Homo sapiens: one gene and its partner. The protein of the gene in region 1 interacts with the protein of each later gene in a biochemical or structural test. Each region holds a gene or a part of one and is shown on either strand. Other genes may lie near its edges.

Evidence for each region. Proteins that work in one complex are often made in the same cells at the same time.
Region 2: the proteins of RHPN1 (region 1) and RGS12 interact in a test that uses a peptide from one of them, tested with the Homo sapiens proteins (one large-scale study listed by IntAct).

What each region holds. Positions count from the first base shown.
Region 1 is NC_000008.11:143,375,376-143,378,875, reverse strand, and holds part of RHPN1 (rhophilin-1), read right to left. Parts: intron 3,324-3,500; coding exon 3,208-3,323; intron 2,352-3,207; coding exon 2,223-2,351; intron 1,497-2,222; coding exon 1,421-1,496; intron 608-1,420; coding exon 530-607; intron 181-529; coding exon 56-180; intron 1-55. UniProt on the Homo sapiens protein: Has no enzymatic activity. May serve as a target for Rho, and interact with some cytoskeletal component upon Rho binding or relay a Rho signal to other molecules.
Region 2 is NC_000004.12:3,313,521-3,317,020, forward strand, and holds part of RGS12 (regulator of G-protein signaling 12), read left to right. Parts: intron 1-1,290; exon of another isoform or gene 1,291-1,429; intron 1,430-2,549; 5' UTR 2,550-2,650; coding exon 2,651-3,500. UniProt on the Homo sapiens protein: Regulates G protein-coupled receptor signaling cascades. Inhibits signal transduction by increasing the GTPase activity of G protein alpha subunits, thereby driving them into their inactive GDP-bound form.

The DNA.
Region 1 (3,500 bases):
GTTCCCGCAGCTGGGCCTCCCCTCCCCAGGGTGCCTCCGCCCGCAGAGCCCCTACCAGTGGAAGAAGAGCCCGAGGCTCCTGGCAGGGGTGAGGAAGCGCGCATCCAGGAAGCACAGCTGGTTGTAATAGGCTGTGAGCAGCTCCAGGCCCGACTCATTCCGGCTGGGGGTCCGCATGGCCTGCAGGGCAGGAGCCACTGGGCCCCACCGCCCTGGCCCACCCCACTCACACACACTGCCCTGGGAAGTCCCATGGGCACCAGCACCATGGGGGGCGGGGAGGCAAAGCCAGTGGGGCCCTGGGCAGCCGTGACTCCCGAAGGCCAGCAGCATGCGGCACCGGAGCCACCTGGGAGCCCCTCCACGCCCCCTGGCTGGGTCTGGACACACAGGGCCCCTGGTGCGCCCGTCTCCCCACGTCCTCGAGATGTCTACGCTGAGCTCCTCTGTCTGTTCCTGACTTCAGCTTCAGCCTCCGCATGTGTCTCCCAGGGCTGCAGGAGGGTGGGTGGGCGGGGGAACCACACACCTGCCGCAGGGCCTCCAGCTCCCTGATTTCTGCCTCGTAGGAGGCGCCGTCCTCTCCAAAGTGCACTGAGATCAGCTCCTGATGGGGGGCAGGTGTTGGCATCCACAGTACCCCTGTGCCTGGCCTCCTTCCCTGAGGTCTCCCAACCCACCTTGGGAAAAGACTCATGGTGGAGGGAGGGTCTGTGCCGCAGAGCAGGCTGGCTGCCATGCAGCGTGGGGGCCCTGGGCCCCTCAGTGGAAGCCCCAGAGAAGGGCTGGGGGCCAATGTGTATGGAGGGGCCTGGTGGGTTGATGCGGGTCGGAGCCCCTGTGGCCCTGGGGTTTCCCCACCCCATCACAGAAGCGGGGCCTGGAGACTCAGCGCTACTTTTACGTGCGTTTCCTTATTCATCCCCGTGGCCGGGAGGCAGGTGCCATCTGCCACTCAGTGACTCGGACACGGAACACAGTCAGTGGCTCCCGTGGGGCCCTGCCAGGCAGTGCCAGTCTGTTCTAGCTCTCCCCAGGACCCTCGTGAGCCAGTGCTGGGTGTGTGGCCCCAAGCCAGTGGTGCCCTCCATGGGCGAGCCTGTACCCTGTGCTCCGGCTGGGGCTTCCAGGCCCCATCCTCCTAGGGCATTGCCCATCCGAGGGTAGGGCACATGTTCACACCCACTCTATGGGATCAGCCCCGGCCTGGGGCGCAGGCACCAGCGGGGCCCTGAACGCAGCAGAGGCTGGGTCCCTGTGGCCATTTCTGCCAGGTCCCTTGCGTCCCTTTTAAGCCTCCCTCCCTCTGGGCCTCAGTTTCCCTATCTGTTCAACCAGACAGCTGGACCAGAAAGCCTCCAAGACCCCCTTGGTCCCAGGGCAGGGCCGTGTATCTCAGAGCTTGGAGGCCAGTACCTACCTTCAGCGGTGTAGACCAGTCCAGCTCCTTGGTCTCCTTCAGGCCCAGGGGGATCATGGGGACAGTGACAGCTTCGCTGTAACCAGAAGCATCGACTTCAGACTGTAAGGCCAAACCCTGCTGCCCACGGCAGCCCGGGGTCCACTCCTAGGGCTCTGTGGCACAGGGTGCCTCCCTCCCTCATGGGTGTGCACGTGCGCCTGTGTCCTGGGGGGCATCCTTGCACCTGTGCACCACCCCCCACCGTCCTAAACCGCCCCAAAAGCAAACACACACACACAGAGACACACACATGCGCGCGCACACACACACACAAACACATGCGTGCATACACATGCAGACACACATGCGCACGCACACACATATATGCACACACGTGCAGACACACACACGCGCACACACAGACACACACAGACACACGTGCATACACGCACACATAGAGGCAAACACACACCCACATACACGCAGACATGCACACGCACGCAGACACGTGCACACAGACACACGCACAGAGATGCACACACAGACACATGCAGACACACAGACACACGCGCACACAGACGCATGCACACACATGCACACACATATACACACAGAGACACACGCACACACACAGAGATGCACAGACACATGCACACAGACACACGCGCACAGACATGCATGCACACACATGCACACACGCACACACACAGACAATGCACACATATACACACAGAGACACACATGCGTGCACACACATGCACACACACACGCACACGTGCACACACATACACGCACGTGCTGTCCCGGCCCCCACCCGCACCTCCCATGCCGGCCAGGGTCCACGCCACCGCTGAGCTCCTCCAGCTCCTCCTTCAGCAGCTGCAGGTTGGAGTTGACGTAGCTCAGCTCCAGGGCGACCGTCTCTCTCACCCGGTTGTTGCTGGTGGCTCTGAGGGAGGCCGCGGCAGTTGAAAGCCCAGCCCCAAGGCAGAGCCAAAGGCCCCGTGCCCACTGCAGCCGTCCTGCCAGCTGACCTGTCAAAGCTCCAAGCCCACCCTGCAGAGGACGTCGCTGACAGGGTCTGCCCCCCATGGGTGGGGCAGGGGCAGCAGTGGGATCCGGGGGCTCACAGGTGATGCCCCCTACAGTTCATCACCCCGACCCCAGCACCTGCATGTTCCGACTCTGGCCTGGGGGCACCTCCCTCAGCACCACGGCTTTCTTTGGGGCTCATACAGCCCTCGACAGCACTCAAACATCACTCCTTGGATGGTGGGTGAGAGCCACACACCTCTCTGTGCCTGCATCAGGGCCTGGCAAAGGGACCGGAGGTCCCCAGGGAAGGCCAGGATGGGGGCAGGGAGGTAGCAGGTGCTAAGGGGACCGAGGGGCACTCACACGCACATGTGTGGCACACAGGCGGTGTGCTCTAAGGAAGAGGCAGCCCAGGTCTTCCACCCCCTCCCAGGTCCCCAACCTTGGGACGCGCCATCACCTGCCACAGCTCAGCCTCAACCATGCCTCTTCTGAGAAGCCCCCACGTGCACTGTTGGGGCTTCCCAAGCTGCACACCCGGCAGGGACACTGGTTTCCTGGCACCTCCAGCCCAGCACAGAGGCCCACGGAGGCAGGTCTGTGAGGGTCATGGCTGAGCATCACGTGTACTACGTGCCCACCAGGACCCAGCTGCTCATGCACCTGTCTCTGTGACCCGGCCATGGGGCAGACATCTGCCTGCGTGGCTGTCCTGCCCCCCTCACCCAGGTGGGCCCTGCTCCCGGGGCCGGGCAGTCTCAAGCACTGACCTGTAGAGGTTCTCAGCGCCCGTCCGCATCTGCAGCTCCTTGTCAATCTGCTGGTGAATCTGGGCCCTGCGGCTCTGCAGCTGGCCGCACTGGATCTGCGTCAGGGAGTCACAGCCCTGCAGGGAGGCCACAGGCGATCACAGCCCGACCCCGTGGCGCCCGCACCAGGCTGCGCCTCGCCAGCCACTGAGAGGAGTGCATCCTGCCCATGGGTAACGGGATGGTCACCATGCGCTGGGGCTGGAGCTGGCCTCACAGGGAGGGGCTGGACAGAACTAGTGTGAACACAGGCC
Region 2 (3,500 bases), on another chromosome or scaffold:
GAAAGAAATTACTGCAAACTGGGGGGCTTAAGACAACACACATTCATTCTCCTGCGTTTTCGGGGGCCTCGTGTCTGCAGTCAGTGTGACCTGGCTGATGGCAGGTGTGGCAGAGCTGGTTCCTCTGGTGACTTTAAGTCTGCTTCCTTCACCTTTCCGGCTTCTGGAGGTGACCGCCTGCCCGTCTGCCTGGGCTCGAGACCCATCCTTGAATCCCTGCAGTCTCCGCATCCTTCCTCATGTGGCCGTCCCCTCTGGCTCTGACCCCAGGCTCACACAGGCGCACCCCACACTCTCCCCATCTCTAGAGCCTTCACGTGGTCACGTGGATGGGAGGAGCCATCCAAAAGCTTGGGAGTGAGGATGTGGGTGTATCAGGGGCCATCAGCCAGCCTGTCACACCTCTTAAGAAGATCGATCCCCAGACGTGTTTCTTGGCCAACTTTTACATTTATTTATTTATTTTTTAATGATGATTTTTAATAATTTTTAATTATTAAAAAATTATAAAATAATTTTAATTATTTTATTTTTTAAATTCATTTTTTAATGATTTTAAATAGTTAAATGCCCAGTCCTAATATTTAAATTATTAATACAGTACTACTTAGATATTGAGTAATGTAATTTATATTCATTTTTTACTCTTTTCCATCAAAACATAATTTTACTAAGTACGCATGTTCTGTGTCCGTGTTTTGTCATCACTGAAGCCACTTTTGGAGTCACCTAGTAATAGCCTTTCCACTCTATCTAGTTCTGTAGCTTTTATGTGTGTAAATTACTTCAAATCTGTTTATGATCCTATTGCTGGAAACTTTATCCCAAGACACAAAAATCTTTTCTATTAGAAGTTATTAACTTTAAAACAATTATTTATTTTATTTTATTTTATTTTTTGAGACAGAGTCTCGCTTTGTCACCCAGGCTGGAGTGCAGTGGCACGATCTCGGCTCACTGCAAGCTCCACCTCCCGAGTTCATGCCATTCTCCTGCCTCAGCCTCCCGAGTAGCTGGGACTACGGGCGTCCGCCACCATGCCCAGCTAATTTTTTTTGTATTTTTGGTAGAGACAAGGTTTCACCGTGTTAGCCAGGATGGTCTTGATCTCCTGACCTCGTGGTCCACCTGCCTCGGCCTCCCAAAGCGCTGGGATTATAGGCGTGAGCCACCGCACCTGGCCTAAAACAATTATTTCTTTAAAAAAACATACCCTCTATTCTATTTTGTGTCTTCACAACACAATCACTTACTGTATTGCTTTTTAAAGTGATCTTTAAAGAGTCTTGCAGAAGAGACTACACAGCAGGCCCGAGACCATCCTGAGAGGCCTGTGTGCAAGGCTGGCCCCCCGCTGGTGTCAGGACGGTGCCCACCACCCTCAATGAAGAGGGGCTCCCTGTGCTTAGCTGCTTGTGTGGGGAACAAGGTTTGTGCTGAGAACCTTCCTTTCTTCTGGGAGTCCAGAGTCTGGGCACGAAGCAGGCAGAGGGTGCCCATGTGCCCAGCCCCCAGTAAAAACCCTGGCACCGAGTCTCTAGTGGGCTTCCCTGGTGACGACACTGCACATGCGTTGTCACGGCTCACTGTGTAGGGAGTTAAGTGCGTCCTGCGTGACCCCGCTGGGAGAGGATTCTGGAAGCTCAAGCCTGGTTTCTTTGGGACATCGCCCCATGGACCTCTGCCCTTGCTGATTTTGTGTGGAATCCTTTCGCTGTAATGAATCTCAGCTGTGAGAGCACCTTTGTGCCAAGTCCTGGGAATCCTAGGGAATCACTGGCCTGGGGGTGATCCGCGGACCACTGACAAGTTTGTTCTCAATGACAACCAATACTTTTATACCCCCTGGAAGAATTGAGTTAATATGACATTTCTGCTTTTTTAGGTGGTGGTTTTTATCTAGCCTGTTGAGTGGCCTCTGCAGTATTGATCGAGGTTGTTTCAGGCTAATACGTTTTCCCCCACACAGTATATTCAAAATAAATTAATGTGGGAGGGTCATGGAATATTAGGTGACCCCTCTCCTGAGGGAAAACTCTATGTCAGGGGATTTATGATCAACTAAGGGGTTAGACTCAGTGTTCTGCAGGTGCCTTTGAACCTGAAGCCTGTAGCAGGCCTTGCTTCTCACGCTTGGACTCTGCCATCCTGTGAAACGTGGGTTTGGGTGTGTTTCTTCTGTGTGGAGCCCGAGAGTCTGCCTTTCAGACGGGCTGCCAGTCCACGGACCACACTTTGAGTAGCAAGGGGCTCTTTCCATCCAAACAGGGTGTGGAAGCAGTGCTGGGAAGCAGTCCTGCATCCTCACACCCGTGGCAGGTGGGCCTGGCAGGAACTTGTGTGGTAACAAGGTAGCAGTTGTGGGAGACATTTTCTACTCCGAAAGGAAGTTTCTTAGCCTGACTTGAAGATTTATTATCTATAGACACTTAGAGGCTCTTTCTGTGGTGGTTTTTATTATGAATTATCTTTTTGTGTTTAGCTAATACCAGTGAGTGGTGGAGAAAGATGGGCTCTTTAATAATGAGCTGTTCGTTTTTCTTTCTTAGGGCACTGTTTGAAGAAGCAAACATGGTAGCATCAAGCATTCCTTGAAATATGGCTCCAAGGGAACAATGAGACGTGCTCTTGGTCTTGGAAGCTCATCAGAATGTTTAGAGCTGGGGAGGCCTCCAAACGCCCATTGCCTGGGCCGTCGCCCCCAAGGGTGCGGAGTGTGGAGGTTGCCCGGGGGAGGGCCGGCTACGGATTCACGCTTTCGGGACAGGCACCCTGTGTGCTCAGCTGCGTCATGAGAGGGAGCCCTGCGGATTTCGTGGGCCTCCGAGCTGGAGACCAGATACTTGCTGTCAATGAAATCAACGTGAAAAAAGCATCTCATGAAGATGTAGTGAAATTAATTGGGAAGTGCTCTGGTGTCCTTCACATGGTGATTGCTGAAGGCGTCGGCCGCTTCGAATCCTGTTCCAGTGATGAAGAAGGGGGACTCTATGAAGGAAAAGGCTGGCTGAAGCCCAAGCTGGATTCTAAAGCACTAGGTATAAACAGAGCAGAGCGAGTCGTGGAGGAAATGCAGTCTGGTGGAATTTTCAATATGATTTTTGAAAACCCGAGCCTTTGTGCGAGCAATTCAGAGCCCTTGAAATTGAAACAAAGATCCCTTTCAGAGTCGGCCGCAACTCGATTTGATGTTGGACATGAAAGTATAAATAATCCAAATCCCAACATGCTTTCTAAGGAGGAAATATCAAAAGTTATTCATGATGATTCGGTTTTCAGCATTGGACTAGAAAGTCATGACGATTTTGCATTGGATGCAAGTATTTTAAACGTGGCGATGATCGTGGGCTACTTAGGCTCCATTGAGCTTCCTTCCACGAGCTCCAACCTGGAGTCCGACAGCTTGCAAGCCATCCGCGGCTGCATGCGGCGCCTGCGGGCAGAGCAGAAAATCCACTCGCTGGTGACCATGAAGATCATGCACGACTGTGTGCAGCTGA